Homo sapiens: one gene and its partners. The protein of the gene in region 2 purifies or fractionates together with the protein of the main gene of each other region. This does not show direct contact. Each region holds a gene or a part of one and is shown on either strand. Other genes may lie near its edges.

Evidence for each region.
Region 1: the proteins of MC1R (region 2) and OGFOD1 fractionate together in Homo sapiens (co-fractionation; one large-scale study listed by BioGRID). This does not show direct contact.
Region 3: the proteins of MC1R (region 2) and MGRN1 purify together in Homo sapiens (affinity purification with western blotting; 3 studies listed by BioGRID). This does not show direct contact.
Region 4: the proteins of MC1R (region 2) and MRAP2 purify together in Homo sapiens (co-immunoprecipitation; one study listed by IntAct). This does not show direct contact.

Annotation. Positions count from the first base shown.
Region 1 is NC_000016.10:56,458,054-56,461,553, reverse strand, and holds part of OGFOD1 (prolyl 3-hydroxylase OGFOD1), read right to left. Parts: intron 3,042-3,500; exon of another isoform or gene 3,016-3,041; coding exon of another isoform or gene 3,007-3,015; coding exon 2,960-3,006; intron 1-2,959.
Region 2 is NC_000016.10:89,917,053-89,922,107, forward strand, and holds MC1R (melanocyte-stimulating hormone receptor), read left to right. Parts: upstream 1-1,903; 5' UTR 1,904-2,206; coding exon 2,207-3,160; 3' UTR 3,161-3,920; downstream 3,921-5,055. Other genes in the region: guanine nucleotide-binding protein subunit gamma 4-like, read left to right, coding at 824-995, 1,799-1,903. UniProt on the Homo sapiens protein: Receptor for MSH (alpha, beta and gamma) and ACTH. The activity of this receptor is mediated by G proteins which activate adenylate cyclase.
Region 3 is NC_000016.10:4,652,326-4,655,825, forward strand, and holds part of MGRN1 (E3 ubiquitin-protein ligase MGRN1), read left to right. Parts: intron 1-352; coding exon 353-499; intron 500-3,500. UniProt on the Homo sapiens protein: E3 ubiquitin-protein ligase. Mediates monoubiquitination at multiple sites of TSG101 in the presence of UBE2D1, but not of UBE2G1, nor UBE2H. Plays a role in the regulation of endosome-to-lysosome trafficking.
Region 4 is NC_000006.12:84,032,447-84,036,571, forward strand, and holds the start of MRAP2 (melanocortin-2 receptor accessory protein 2), read left to right. Parts: upstream 1-1,325; 5' UTR 1,326-1,437; intron 1,438-1,672; exon of another isoform or gene 1,673-1,786; intron 1,787-4,125. UniProt on the Homo sapiens protein: Modulator of melanocortin receptor 4 (MC4R), a receptor involved in energy homeostasis. Plays a central role in the control of energy homeostasis and body weight regulation by increasing ligand-sensitivity of MC4R and MC4R-mediated generation of cAMP.

The sequences.
Region 1 (3,500 bases), about 33 Mb from region 2:
AACTGGAGGTTCACACTACTGCCTCCTTGGGTTTGATAATTTACTAGAATAGCTCACGGAACTCAGAAGAAGTTTGTTTACTAGATTACCAGTTTATTATAAAAGGACAGAACTGAGAAACAGCCAGACGGAAGGGATGTATAGGGTGAGGTATGGGGAAGGGGTGTGGAGCTTCCACACCACGTCCTCCCCAGGTACACCACCCTCCCAGCACTTCCATGGGAGTTCAGCAATCCTGAACTCCTTTGGTTAGGGTTTTTGATGGAGGCTTCATTATGAAGGAATCATTGATTAAGTGATTGGCTATTAGTGATTAACTCAACCTCCAGCCTCTCTTCCCTTGCAGGAGGTCAGAGAGGTCTGTGCCAGGAATAGAGACCAAGACCAAATATACATTTATTATAAATCACAAGCACCAATACTGGTACCGCCATTTAATGAACACTTGGGTGGCACTGTTTTAGAAGATTAAAACAACTTTAAATGGCAATAATGATGAGTGTTGAATTAAATGCATAATAATGAGTGAAATCCTTCATAGAAGTTCTGATGCTAACAGGATACCAATAGAAGATGGTGAACGTTTCCATTTACCAGCTAAACTGGCTCTCCATGTAGAAATCTCTTAACACAATTTATAACTCACTCAGCCAATCAACTTTGAAATTATGAATTATTACTAACCTTGAGGAATTAAAACATTTTAAAAAGATTTACATTAGTTCAAGTTACGCTTACAAAGATACTTAATATTTTTTTGGATCATCCTACTCCAAATGCACATTACTGAAATTCCCATAAAATAGAACTGTCCTGTTTATAACTAAGTATCAAATCTCCAGGTTGATCTCTAAGATTTCATTACCAAATACCTTTTTATATTATACACTATCAAAACCAAAAAATTCCATTATCAGCTGCGAACAAGCTTAAAGAACATTCCATAAAATAATTGTGCTCAGTCAGTCCACTCAGAGGTGCCATGTAACTTTTAAAGGCAGAGTTGGAAATTATGTAAAATGGGTCAGGATAGCAAACTGCTGAACCAGGCTTCAGATAATGTGAGAGATAAATATTTCTTCAAAGTCTTGATACTGTAAGCAACTAATAGTCTTAAATCCTTTACTGGTAACATTAGCTTTCACAAATTCCAGAAAAAGCTCTTCTATTCATTCTATGAAAGTGTCACAAGGACAGGCTTATTTTGTCATTGTTAGCATTTGTTAATTGTATTCATGAAGGAACTCACAGAATCCAAGTGGGAAATAAAAAGATCAGCTCTCTGTAACGATTACGGAGTTGCAGCTTGCTCACCATCTGGCTGTAAGCCTTTAGTGTGGAATGTAACTCAGTCCCACATGAAATGCTTAGCAGAGTGGTGTTGTGAACTAAGGGGATAATGCCTTAATTCATGATAATCTTTCTTTAGGGGGAAAAAAGTCTAAGTAAATATGAAACATAATGCATTACAATTAACACACAAGCAATACTTCAGGATTTAGAAGAAATTGTGCAAGCTGCCTATAATACATGGAAGTACTGCAGAGAAAAAATATAATGAGAATAAATAATTTATACCATATAGGTGAAAAACAGCTATTACAAAGCAACATCTATTCATTATAGAAACTAGGAAAAAAATCCCATGTAAGTAAAAAACTATTAAAAAAAAATCTGTATTCCTACTAGCAGGAGTTAAATACTCTATTTTTCCAAATCTTTTACTTTATACACACAGACATCCAAATGTAGGTGTGTGTATCTCTTTTTAAAATAAGATCACGTGATGTGAATCCATTGGTCAGAAAAAACAACAAAGCATCAAATTGTGTGTATTATTTTTTTCTCTTGACAAAAATGTGTTAAGTATCATTATTTCATATATCACTAAGGAAAAAATGCTGTCAATTAAAGTAGGACACAAAAGTGATTGTGTGAGACACTAGATCCCAGAGGTGTTAAAATGTTAAAAGTTTCTTAGAATTGAGAACATAGATAACTACCACATTCATGTGTCAAAACTCATGTATATCATATTTAATGGTTGTATAGTTTCCACTTTATGTTTTGTACTATTATGTTTAAATCTCCATGGGCGATCAAATTTGTATATAATTTTTCAATATTATAAACAATATTACAATAAGTAATCTTGTATGGAATCTTTGAGCATATCCTTATTTTCTCAGGATAACTTCTTTTTTTTTTTTTTGAGATGGAGTCTCGCTGTTGTCGCCCAGGCTGGAGTGCAACGGGCTCGATCTCGGCTCACCCCAACCTCCACCTCCCTGGTTCAAGCGATTCTCCTGCCTCAGCCTCCTGAGTAGCTGGGATTACAGGCATGTGCCACCGCGCCCAGCTAATTTTGTATTTTTAGTAGAGACAGGGTTTCTCCATGTTGGTCAGGCTGGTCTTGAACTCCTGACCTCAGGTGATCCACCCGCCTCGGCCTCCCAAAGTGCTGGGATTACAGGCGTGAGCCACCACGCCCAGCCCCCAGGATAAATTCTTATAAGTGAAACTGTTCTACAAAAAGATATGCATACTTTTAAGGGTTCTGATACATCTTTCAAAACCATCTTTGAAGAAAGACTACAGCAGTGTATAAAGTTATCTATCTATATCTGTCAACACTAGGGTTTTTATTTTTAATATTTACCAACCTAACATGTGAAAAATGGTATCTCCAGTGTTAACTTCTGTTTCCTTGATTACTAACAAGATTGAGCATTTTATCACTGAGAACTTGGGCCTTGGAATCAGACAGACTTAGGTTTGTATGCTAGCTCCCTTAATTTTAAGCTATGCAAACTCAATTTCTCGGTCTCTTTCCTCCTCTACAAAGTGGGTTAACAATGTCAACAAGAATTATATGACATACACAATGTTGTAACATTTAAAGCACTTACTACTCTGCCTGGCACATATTAGCACCCAACAAATATGATTACTTGTTTACCTTAAAGTGGAGATGTGAGGCTCTCTTCTCTTCTTCAAATCATCAGACTTGATCATGAAAATAGAGAAAAAAAAGGGATTTCCTTCACATAAGAGACACACAAAGGAGAGCAGTTTAGTGAGTGTTCTGGTCCTAGCATTGTCATTAAGAGCCCAGACTCTGAAGCCAGGCTGCTTAGGTTTAACACAGGGCCCCTCCATTGGATGGGTCTGTGACTTGACAAGTTATTACCCTCTGTGCTTTATTCATTAAACAAATACTTAAGTCGTTATTATAGTCTAGTTTCTATGCCCATTGAGGGAGATAGACAACAGACACAAAAAGCAGATTAGTATAAAGATGGTGAGAAGTGCATAAAGGAAAAAAAGAAACCCAGGGAAAGAATGGGGAGTGCTAAGCCTGGGGAGTGGTTTGCAATTATAAACAGGTTGGCCAAGGTAGACTTCAGGGAGGTGATACAAAGACTTGAAGGAGGCTGGGAAGTGTGGCAAGGCAATATCAAGGCACAAAGCATTCAAGGTCCTGAGCATGAAGCGCGCCT
Region 2 (5,055 bases):
GGCTCACTGCAACCTCCGCCTCCTGGGTTCAAGCAATTCTGCCTCAGCCTCCCAAGTAGCTGGGATTATAGGCGTGCGCCACCACGCCTGGCTGATTTTTGTATTTTTAGTAGAGATGGAGTTTCACCATATTACCCAAGCTGGTCTTGAACTCCTGACCTCATGATCCGCCTGCCTCAGCCTCCCAAAGTGCTGAGATTATAGGGGTGAGCCACTGTGCCCGGCAATAATAATTTTTTTTTTTTTTGAGACAGAGTTTTGCTCTTGTTGCCCAGGCTGGAGTGCAATGGTGCAATCTCGGCTCACGGCAACCTCCGCCTCTCATGTTCAAGCTATTATCCTGACTCAGCTGGGATTACAGGCACCCACCACCACACCTGGCTGATTTTGGTATTTTTAGTAGAGACGGGGTTTCTCCATGTCGGCCAGGCTGGTCTCGAACTCCTGACCTCAGGTGATCCACCCGCCTTGGGCTCCCAAAGTGCTGGGATTACAGCCCTGAGCCACCATGGCTGACAATAATAAAAAATTTTAAAGCAAAACTAAAGATTTATAAATTGTAAAATGCGGTTGTAACAAGTATTTACTGTACCAGTAAATATGAAAAATATTAATGTCCTCACACACATGGAGGTGGCTTGTGAGTGGTGTGAGCATTTCATGGTCAGAGTTTGGCAGTTGGGCGAGAGACAGGATGGATTTTAACTCGAACATCGCAGACACAAAACTGAAAACCCTGATGCGGTGCCTGCACCGTTGCCTCCTTTCCTGCAGCTGTAAATGGGACGAGTAATTCCATCCCCCTCCCGCTTCCACCCTTCAGCACAGACGCAGTCTTCAGCAAGGAAGTGCTGGGAACGCCCTGGAGTGAACCCAGGAAGATGCCTGCAGTGGGTGCCAGGGCCCCTCTCCACCGTCCCTGCTGGGCTTCGGGGCCACGCCCGACTGCTGTGAACGGCCTGCGGAGCACCACGTGCGACGGCTGGAGGCGAGAGGTCTGCCTTTGATGTGGCTGTTGGTGCAGGGCCTGTGGTGCCTTCCGCAGCGGAAATGGCGCGCCGCCCGGGGAGGGCGGGAGCAGCGTCCCGGGTGCCCCTGTGAGGATGAGCGACGAGATGACTGGAGGGTCCCTGAAGACCTCACTAGGGTGCCCCCAGCCGGTCCGCTCCCAGGAAGCGACACCCCCACAGCCCCAGGGCTGCAGCTGAGGGGGTCGCCACTCTGGCTGGGCGAGGCTGGGCCCTTGGGGGCAGGCGCCAGAGTGGCCTCAGGCTCTACAAGATGCCTGAAAACACCAACCTCTCCAGGGCTCACTAGCATTGGACGCTTTCACGCTCTGCCCTGGCCGGAAGCCCCCTCACCCCGCGCGATGTGCAAACTCCTGCAGGGCTCACTCAGTTTCCAGAACTTTAATTATTGGAAAGTTCTCCCTGGTCCAGCCCCCAAATCTGCCGTGAACGTTGACAGCTGAGTTGCTGCTCCATGCGTGCTTTGGCTGAGAGCAGAGGGGACCCCTGTCCTCCCTGAGCTGCTGACGAGGGGAGGGGTGAAGGGTGGGGCCTCTGGAGAGGGCAGGTCCCGGGGAAGCTCCGGACTCCTAGAGGGGCGGCCAGGTGGGGGCCCTGGTGACCAGGACAGACTGTGGTGTTTTTTAACGTAAAGGAGATCCGCGGTGTGAGGGACCCCCTGGGTCCTGCACGCCGCCTGGTGGCAGGCCGGGCCATGGTGGGTGCTCACGCCCCCGGCATGTGGCCGCCCTCAGTGGGAGGGGCTCTGAGAACGACTTTTTAAAACGCAGAGAAAAGCTCCATTCTTCCCAGGACCTCAGCGCAGCCCTGGCCCAGGAAGGCAGGAGACAGAGGCCAGGACGGTCCAGAGGTGTCGAAATGTCCTGGGGACCTGAGCAGCAGCCACCAGGGAAGAGGCAGGGAGGGAGCTGAGGACCAGGCTTGGTTGTGAGAATCCCTGAGCCCAGGCGGTAGATGCCAGGAGGTGTCTGGACTGGCTGGGCCATGCCTGGGCTGACCTGTCCAGCCAGGGAGAGGGTGTGAGGGCAGATCTGGGGGTGCCCAGATGGAAGGAGGCAGGCATGGGGGACACCCAAGGCCCCCTGGCAGCACCATGAACTAAGCAGGACACCTGGAGGGGAAGAACTGTGGGGACCTGGAGGCCTCCAACGACTCCTTCCTGCTTCCTGGACAGGACTATGGCTGTGCAGGGATCCCAGAGAAGACTTCTGGGCTCCCTCAACTCCACCCCCACAGCCATCCCCCAGCTGGGGCTGGCTGCCAACCAGACAGGAGCCCGGTGCCTGGAGGTGTCCATCTCTGACGGGCTCTTCCTCAGCCTGGGGCTGGTGAGCTTGGTGGAGAACGCGCTGGTGGTGGCCACCATCGCCAAGAACCGGAACCTGCACTCACCCATGTACTGCTTCATCTGCTGCCTGGCCTTGTCGGACCTGCTGGTGAGCGGGAGCAACGTGCTGGAGACGGCCGTCATCCTCCTGCTGGAGGCCGGTGCACTGGTGGCCCGGGCTGCGGTGCTGCAGCAGCTGGACAATGTCATTGACGTGATCACCTGCAGCTCCATGCTGTCCAGCCTCTGCTTCCTGGGCGCCATCGCCGTGGACCGCTACATCTCCATCTTCTACGCACTGCGCTACCACAGCATCGTGACCCTGCCGCGGGCGCGGCGAGCCGTTGCGGCCATCTGGGTGGCCAGTGTCGTCTTCAGCACGCTCTTCATCGCCTACTACGACCACGTGGCCGTCCTGCTGTGCCTCGTGGTCTTCTTCCTGGCTATGCTGGTGCTCATGGCCGTGCTGTACGTCCACATGCTGGCCCGGGCCTGCCAGCACGCCCAGGGCATCGCCCGGCTCCACAAGAGGCAGCGCCCGGTCCACCAGGGCTTTGGCCTTAAAGGCGCTGTCACCCTCACCATCCTGCTGGGCATTTTCTTCCTCTGCTGGGGCCCCTTCTTCCTGCATCTCACACTCATCGTCCTCTGCCCCGAGCACCCCACGTGCGGCTGCATCTTCAAGAACTTCAACCTCTTTCTCGCCCTCATCATCTGCAATGCCATCATCGACCCCCTCATCTACGCCTTCCACAGCCAGGAGCTCCGCAGGACGCTCAAGGAGGTGCTGACATGCTCCTGGTGAGCGCGGTGCACGCGGCTTTAAGTGTGCTGGGCAGAGGGAGGTGGTGATATTGTGTGGTCTGGTTCCTGTGTGACCCTGGGCAGTTCCTTACCTCCCTGGTCCCCGTTTGTCAAAGAGGATGGACTAAATGATCTCTGAAAGTGTTGAAGCGCGGACCCTTCTGGGTCCAGGGAGGGGTCCCTGCAAAACTCCAGGCAGGACTTCTCACCAGCAGTCGTGGGGAACGGAGGAGGACATGGGGAGGTTGTGGGGCCTCAGGCTCCGGGCACCAGGGGCCAACCTCAGGCTCCTAAAGAGACATTTTCCGCCCACTCCTGGGACACTCCGTCTGCTCCAATGACTGAGCAGCATCCACCCCACCCCATCTTTGCTGCCAGCTCTCAGGACCGTGCCCTCGTCAGCTGGGATGTGAAGTCTCTGGGTGGAAGTGTGTGCCAAGAGCTACTCCCACAGCAGCCCCAGGAGAAGGGGCTTTGTGACCAGAAAGCTTCATCCACAGCCTTGCAGCGGCTCCTGCAAAAGGAGGTGAAATCCCTGCCTCAGGCCAAGGGACCAGGTTTGCAGGAGCCCCCCTAGTGGTATGGGGCTGAGCCCTCCTGAGGGCCGGTTCTAAGGCTCAGACTGGGCACTGGGGCCTCAGCCTGCTTTCCTGCAGCAGTCGCCCAAGCAGACAGCCCTGGCAAATGCCTGACTCAGTGACCAGTGCCTGTGAGCATGGGGCCAGGAAAGTCTGGTAATAAATGTGACTCAGCATCACCCACCTTAGCCCCTTCCAGAAAGTGCTTGAAGTTTGCGGGTGGAGGGATGGGGGAGGGGAAGGTGGGCAGGGGTGAGAGTCGAGAGGGAAGAAAGGAGTCCCGGAAAACGTGGCTGCCTCCCCAGGTGAGGAAGCCACAGCCCCAGAGGCCCCAAATGCCTGGGGAGTGTGGAGGTCCCAACCAGGCTTGCGCTGACCCTGCTTCTCGGTTTTCTCTCCGTGCTGACAAACCCCAGCCTAGAGGAAGGACGAGCAGGTGCAGCAGGGCCCCAGTCCCCTCCACTCTTGACGCTGTCCTAGCTGCAGAAGAGGCGGGTTCCCAGCCTTCCCTGTGACCACATGTGACCTCAGCCGGGACACATCCCTTTGCTGGCCCTGGCCCTGAGTCCCTCCAGCCATGATGAGCCGTGAATGGGACCATCCCTGTCCACTCTGAGATGCCTGGAAGGGGGCTCAGTGCAGGTGGGCTGGGGGCTGGGTCTGCTGTCTGCCCAGCACTGCCATTCTGGGAGTAGGCAGGTGGGGAAGGGGTCGGGGGTGGAGGGTCTGTGTTCAGCCAGTCCTGGGAAATGCTTGATGTGAGGCTTCTGAAGATGGCAGTGAGGCAGAGGCCCAGCCGGCGGAGAAGTCCCTGGGAGTGAGTACCTGGGGATGAACTATGCTGCCTGGTGCTGGGGAGCAGTGGCGCCCCTGGGCCATCCCTCTGCTGAAACCTGGGCGTCTCGCTGAAGAGACCACCTCCATTTCCTCTGCAGAGACTGAGCACTCAGTCAGCCCCCTTCCTGGGACAGGCTCAATGGAGGCTGCAGGGCCATCAGCCGACTCCTACGCAGGCTCAGTCAGCAGCCCCCTGGCCAGCCCCACCCCTGACTGCCGGCCTCAGAACTGGGAGCTGCTTCCTGGCAGGGCCCGCCTCTGCTGGGAGACCGGACGGTGAGTCAGCCTTAAGCCCGGCACCAGACCCCTCTGAGGATGGAGCAGGAGCTGGCTGCCCTGAGGCTGCAAAACTTCTTCCCTCGTGGAGACAGGGAGGCACCTCAGACACTCACCCCGGACTCCCTTGAACAGGGACAGGGAGGAACCCCAGGCAGCTAGACCCCAGCAGCAGCCACACGAGCACACTGTGGGGCAGGGAGGG
Region 3 (3,500 bases), about 85 Mb from region 2:
GGGGTGCTGCAGACTTCCTGCCATGCACAGGACGGCCCCCCCACAGACAGGAATGACCCAGCACCAGATTTCAGCAGGTTCAGAAACTGCTTAAACCGACTAGACTTGAGGCATCTGGGGCTGTCTCTGAACCAAAAGCACGTACCCCGTCTTCTGTGGGCAGGAAGAAGGAGAGGCAAGCCCTGGACCACTGGGCTTTCATGTACAAATAGGAAACAGCCCCTATGTCTACTGGAGAAGCGGGCTGTGTCCACATAGCCACCTCCACGGCCCCTCAGCCTGGCAGGGGAGGAGGCAGCCTCCGCAGATGGGGCCGCTGACCCGCTGCCTTTCTCTCCACCGCCTGGGGTAGGTACAAAGACGATGCCGACAGCCCCACCGAGGACGGCGACAAGCCCCGGGTGCTCTACAGCCTGGAGTTCACCTTCGACGCCGATGCCCGCGTGGCCATCACCATCTACTGCCAGGCATCGGAGGAGTTCCTGAACGGCAGGGCAGTGTGAGTCCCGCGGGCGGCTGGCACCGGCCTGGCTGGGGGCCCCAGACTCCTGGGGGAGGCTTCTGTCCACCTTACTAACCAGAGGGAGAAAACCAAACCGTGCTCTTTGACCATACTCCCAGGACTTTACCACGATGTGAGGGGTTTCTCCCACCCCAGGGACTCCCCACTTTTCTGCGGGAACCAGCTGGGGTCCTTTGACTGGTTTCAGTTCCAACGCTGCCTGGAGGTCATGCAACCCCTGCACTTTGAGGGCCCAGTCCCACAAGACTGCCCCACTTCAGATGCCACTCATAAGCCCCCGCTGTCACCTGAACTTCTCAGCAACCAGCCATAAATCAGGCTCCCACAGTCCCCTCCTCAGGCTTGATGAGTTGCTAGTGTGGCTCACAGAACCCAGGGAAACACTTGGCTGGTGTTTGTTGGTTTATTGTAAAGGATTCAGATGAAGAGGTTCACAGGGTGAGGTGTGGGGGAAGGGGTGGGGCGCACCACCTTCCTCGTATTCAGCAAACCAGAAGCTCTCCTGAAAACCCCATTTCAGGGCCTTTTCTGGAGGCTTCATCACGTAGGCAGGATTGATGATTAACTCCATCTCCAGCCCCTGTCCCCTCCCTGGAGGATGGGGCTGGGCTGAAATTCAGTTCCAGGTTTTTGTTTTGTTTTTGTTTTGTTTTGTTTTGAGACGAAGCCTCACTCTGCTGCCCAGGCTGGCGTGCAGTGGCACAATCTTGGCTCACTGCAACCTCCGCCTCCCGAGTTGAAGCAATTCTCCTGCCTCAGCCTCCTGAGTAGCTGGGACTACAGGCACGTGCCACCACGCTTGGCTAATTTTTGTATTTTTAGTAGAGATGGGGGTTTCGCCATGTTGGCCAGGATGGTCTCAATCTCTTGACCTCATGATCTGTCCATCTCAGCCTCCCAAAGTGGTTTTTGTTTGTTTTTGAGACAGAGTTTCGCTCTTGTTGCCCAGGCTGGAGTGCAATGGTGTGATCTTGGCTCACTGCAACCTCCGCCTCCTAGGTTCAAGTGCTTCTCCTGCCTCAGCCTCCCGAGTAGCTGGGATTACAGGCATATGCTACCATGCCTGGCTAATTTTGTATTTTTAGTAGAGACGGGGTTTCATCATGTTGGTCAGGCTGGTCTCAATCGCTCGACCTCAGGTGATCCACCTGCCTCGGCCTCCCAAAGTGCTGAGATTACAGCCGTGAGCCCCCATGCCCGGCCCACCTGGCCCAGGTTTTTGTTTGTTTTTCCTCGGGAGCTCTTAGACGACACTTCCAAGTCTCTAATCATGGCTTGGTCTTTCTGGCAGCCAGCCACCTCCAGGAGCCAAGAGTCACCTCACTGGCACATAAGACACTCCTACCACCCGGGAAATTCCAAGGGTTTGGAGTTCTGTGTTGGGAGCAAAGGTCAAGGAACAAATATTAGAACAAAAGAGGCTCCTAGCACCCCTGTTGCTGAGGAAATGACAAGGGTTTTAGAGGACTCTGTGTCAGGAACTGGGGCTGGGACCAAATATTTATTTTTTATTGTGTCATAATTAGATATTTGTACTTTCAGAGGTTTTATTTGAGATAAGGGTCCTTCTGGCCCTGAAAGTTTGAAAACTGCAACTTCAGCAGGAGCTGGCAGGACTGCCTCCAGGCTACAAGGGCACATGTGCCCCAAGTGGCTTTAGAGACAGGCAAGAGCGTGCCCCCTGCCTTCCTGCACTGGAGCACACCGCTCAGTGGTCAGCTTTGCATCTGGGGATAGGGTGTGGTTGAGAGCCTAGGCTTTGAATGCTGTCCCCGCTGAGTGGCTTGGGGGCACATGACTGCTTGTGCCTCTGTGTCCTCAGCTGGAAGTTCGGGTGGGTGGTGTGAGGAGGGGACCATGTGTCCTGTGCACAGCCCCTCGCGTGACAGGTGCTCTTGAAAGGAGCCTGAGTGCTCGAGTTGAGGGGCTGGTGGAGACGACTTATGTGGGGAGGTTCTTAGGGACCTGCCACCAGGTGAGGCCGCCCTTGGGCTCTGGCCTTGGGCTCCCCGGCAGCCAGGGCTCCTCCTGTGGAGCAGCACTTTGGGGAGGAACAGGTTCCTTTTTCTAGACTTTGTTCTTTGAGGCTCTACCTTGCCCCGGCACTTGATTATATTTCTTTAATGACACTAGTAATGCATGCCTGTGTGCTATGACAGGCGTCGAATTCTTGGGCGTAGGAGCATTTGGAGTGACCAGGGCAGGCCCCTCTGTCCCCTCCTTGCACCCCACTGCTTGGGGTTGAGTGTTTGACACCCACGGGGCCTGGTGCCCTCCTCGGGCCTGGCCGACATGGTGGAGGAGCTGGGTTGTGGCGAGGTGTCCAGGGGCTGCCACAGAGAGGGTGTGGGCTGAGGACACAGGCCAGTGTAAGTTGTCTATCCGCTGCCCCCCAGTGCTCCAGCTGTCAGGGGCTGGGTGACCATCTCAAGTGCACTTGAAGAGAGGGTCCCGCTGCTACCAGAAAGGCTAGAGAGAGCAGAGAGGGTGCCCTGCCAGCCCTGGCTGGTGTCACCCTCTCCTAGACCCCTGCGGGCTAGTGATGAGAGAAATGCCACAGTCCCCCCCTCTCAGGACCTGGCACAAGGCCAGCTTCCCCTCCCAGCAGGAATCACAGAGCAGGAACAGCTCCAGTGCCACTGTCCCCCTCTGTCAGGACCTGGTACGAGGCCTGCTTCCCCTCCCAGCGGGGATCACAGAGCAGGAACAGCTCCAGTGCCACTGTCCCCCTCTCTCAGGACCTGGTACGAGGCCTGCTTCCCCTCCCAGCAGGCATCACAGAGCAGGAACAGCTCCAGTGCCACTGTCCCCCTCTCTCAGGACGCGGTGCAAGGCCAGCTTCCCCTCCCAGCAGGGATCACAGAAAAGGACCTGGAGGCTCCAGGACCTGGAGGCTGTGCCCAGGCACCCGGACACCATCCAGCCTGCCAGTGCTCCATCCATTTGAGCTGCAGGGCAAGCCACCCTCCCTGCCTCC
Region 4 (4,125 bases), on a different chromosome or scaffold from region 2:
ACAAGTTGATAAATGCAGCAAACCACGCTGGCACATGTATACCTATGTAACAAATCTGTACATTCTGCACATGTATCCCAGAACTTAAAATTAAAAAAAAGAAGAAGAAGAAAAATGGTGTTCAAAATATTTCATTTTACAAGTGGTAATGAAACTGAGCTTTTAAAAAAAAATCAGTGATGAGATGTCATTTCCAGGAATCCTCTTTTGGCACCACCAGCTTGAGTTCATCACACTGCCACCAGCCTGCATGGGTGCTGCATTTCCCCTGCTGCTGTATAATGGTGGTTAAACTATGGTTCTGGGGCACCAGGCTTCCTGACCTTGAAGGCAAGCTCCTCTATTGACTAGCATATGACCTTGGGCAGTTCCTTTAACCTTCCTAAGTTACAGTTTCTCATCAGTAAAATGGAAATGGTGGCAATACCTGTCTAATATGGCATATGGAGAGTAGTAAAAGAAATGACTAGTGCAGTAAAGAACATCTCAGTGCCTGCCACACAGCAAGTGCTTTCTCTCCAGATACCAGCGTGACTTCTTTCTGTCTCATCTCCTTTAGATCTTTACTCCACTGTGAAGCCATCTTTGACCATCCCATTTAAAAATGCACCCCCTACCTCCAAACATTATCCCATTTCCTCCCTTCTTTTTTGTCCACCGCACTTCATCACTATCTCACATACTATGTATTTTAGTTATTTGTTATGTTTATGCCTGTCTCTTTAGTAGAATGCAAGCACCAAGCACCTGTATTCCCAGATCAATGCCTGGCATGCAATAAGGACTCAAGGGAGGAAGAGATGAGCCAGCCCTGCTATGCTGAAACTACTCCCGGCCCAGTGCTAGCCCTTTGGGACCCCGTTTGAACGTCTGACTGCCCTTTGACACCTGGACCAGTGGGCAGGAAGAGAAACTAAAATCGAGGTAGTAATTTAAGCAGCACATTATGGGGGGGCTCTGGCCTTACTGAACTTGAACTCAATGCTGCCGATTTTTCATAAGCCTTGATTCATGATACCCCACTCCCTCTTGCTCAGCTAATGAGCTCCTCCTGTTACCCAAAGTTGACCCGAGGGACCCACTGCAGAGCCCGGGATGGCAAAGAATTCTCTGACTCAGGCTCTGACCCGGACTCGGAGGGGCAAAGTGAGCAGGAAAGGGATCTGCAAAGCTCACCTCCTCTTGGCCAAGGCGGCCTCGCGCTGGGGAGGCGGCTCTCGCGCTGGGGAGGCGGCTCCCGCGCTGCAGCCCTGCTCCGGCGCCCCGCGCCGCCTCCGCTGCGGGTCGGGAGCGCGCGTCTCCGCCGCACCTCGGATCTAGGAGCTACTCGCCCGGCCCTGGGCGGTGGGAGGCGGCGGCGGCGGCGGCGCTCGCGCACCTCGGAGGAGCCAGGAGCCGGAACCAGGGCCGAGCCCGCGGGCCGGGGCTAGCCAGCCGGTAACCACGGGCGGGACAGGGCGCCCAGGGCGGAGCAAAGCCCGGGCGCTGGGTGCGGGGCGCGTGCAGCTTTGGTCAAGGCAGGGCTTGCTTGGGTTTGGGGGCAGTCTTTAGTTTAGAGGGGCTAGAGAATGGGGTGGGAGGAGGAGAATTGGGGTGTGAGGACGCCCACGGGAAGAGTGTGGACCCCGTGGAGAGCACCAAGTTTAAAACCTTCCCGGCAGCCCGCTGATGTGCGTGTGGACGCCGCTGGGCGTCCGAAAAGCCTGGAAGCGGCGGCGCTCGGGGCTTGGGTGGGCTTCCTCCCCTCCGCTGGGCCCCAGCGGCCGAGGCACACCCTTTCCCGCTGGTGAGAAAACTTTCCTTGCTGCGGCCCTCCTGCCGCCTTGGTGCCCTGCAACTGAGAGAGCCCCCCTGGGCTGGGGAAATGTGCTGGCTCCTGGCCCCGGGCGCGCCTCCATGCACTGGGCAGGGTTCTCAGATGATGCCTGGCTTGACAGTTGCTCATTCATTTTGTTTGGACTGGGGAGCCTGCTCGCAGGTCGTGTTACTGATTAGAGGGAAATAGGGGTTTTACACTTTCCCCGCCGCCCCACCCCGCAACCCGCCCCCGCTCCCCCCGCCCGCCCCGCGCCCCGTGCCCCGTGCCTTTCCCATCCTTTCTGTGTAATTAATTGAGGAAGGCAAAGAGTAGTCTCTGCAGAAACCTGTTTGGAGGCGTTGTGGTTTCCACAGCATGTTAGATGGCACAGAATCTCAGCCACTACTCTGCATTTAGTTTGACAACAGTGAAACACTCTGGTGTTTTGAAGGCAAAGGAAGCTTGAGGGAATGTGTCCAGGGAGACGAGAGAAGGGAACTCTTATGCATAAATTAATTCTTACGAAAACCCCAAAAGTAAACAGTAGTATTTTCAGTTTGCAGGTAGAGAAAATTAGATTGCGATATTAAATACGTTTTCCAAGGTGACTGCCCCAGTTAAGTAATAGTGGGGAGTAGGGGTCTGGAAGCTAGGACTGTGAGTCTAGTTTCCTTTAGGTACATTGCATGGGGTACACAGACAAGAACAGGTGCAGGAGAGTGACGAGGGCCTGCAAGGATAAGGTCAGGAAAGCCAGAGGCCACTGTGAGCTGGGGTACCCACAAGGAGTTTCGTTCTTATGAGGAAGATCATCCAGTGTTTATGGAAGAATAGATAATATTAACAGGTGATAGGAAAAGGAAGAGTTGCTTCCAGTCTGTATCTTTCTTTTCAAAGTGAGGCCAGCCTAAACCCTTTAAAGAGGGTCTCGAAGCCCGAAACTGGACTGGATTGTTCAAAACCCAAATGGCAGACGTCCTAGAGTAGTGAAAGCGGTTACAGTCATCTTTGTGCAGGTATGAGAGATGAGAATGGACCCAGGAGACTTTTTAAAAGAGGGAAACATTGAATCCTGGCAACATTCTAGAACAAATTCTTTAAGATAGCTCAAAACTACCTAGGGAAGCATTTACAAATACTTACGCCAAACCAACTCCCTTCCCTTTTCTAGCAATCTACTGGGATATAGATCAGGGTATGCTGTATCCATTGTCTTCAAATGTGGGCTGTGACTCATTAGGCTAATGATCAGTTTAGTGAGTTGCAAATAGCAGTTTTTAAAACATGAAAGCCAAGAGAAAGAAAGATAAGATATCAGAGTGCATTGCAGGAGCAAGGGAAAGTACTGTTTTGTGAAGCGCGCGCTGGTGATGCATGTGTCCTGTTCTGTGTTGCTGATCCTGCTGCCTCTGCGTGAGTGTTCATACCCATCGCTAGCTGCCCCCTTTCAGCCTTCTGAGCTAGCCCCATTCTGGTCACAGTGGGGGTCATCTTCTTTTACCTTGCAGATTATGTCATCAACATATTCTGGAAAGCTGTTCGCTTCCTCCTCCCCATTTCTGTTGGCCCCCAGATGCTGAGGTATTTTGCCAATCAGAATTCATCTCTGAATTATTTATCTGTGACCTTTTTTGATAGTCACAGTTCATAGATAACTTTTATCAAACATATTAAATTAGTTCAAATTGTATAAAGAGAATATCACATCTGTCCTTTTTAGCTTTCAAGGGAAATGTTTTCATTACTTGGAGTACAAAAAATATTGGAAGAACAATATTCTTATGATGTTTGTGTAATATATTTAAGGAACTATTATTATACCAAGCTATGATATTTGGAAGATTACCAGATAATGCCTCATTGTGTCATTTTCTGTCTAGTCTTTTTTTTTTTTTAAATTTTTCTCATTTTGGCTTTTTTTCCTAAATGAAATATCAAGGTAGATATATGAGAACCTCTCCATAACTCTTGAACCCACTGGTTACTTCAAGAGTATGAGGGTTCATCATGCAAAGGAATATGAAGAAATGTTTTAATAAACAAAATGAAAAATAATATGAGGGTTGAGCAAGGAGGCCTTGTTGAATAGATTTACTTCCTTCATCCCAAAGCTAGTGATGGTGTATCTGAAATTGGTGGGTTCTTGGTCTCACTGACTTCAAGAATGAAGCCACGGACCCTTGCGGTGAGTGTTAACAGTTCTTAAAGATGGTGTGTTCTGAGTTTGCTCCTTCTGATGTTCGGACGTGTTTGGAGTTTCTTCCTTCTGGTGGGTTTGTGGTCTCGCTGGCTTCAGGAGTGAAGCTGCAGACCTTCACGGTGAGTGT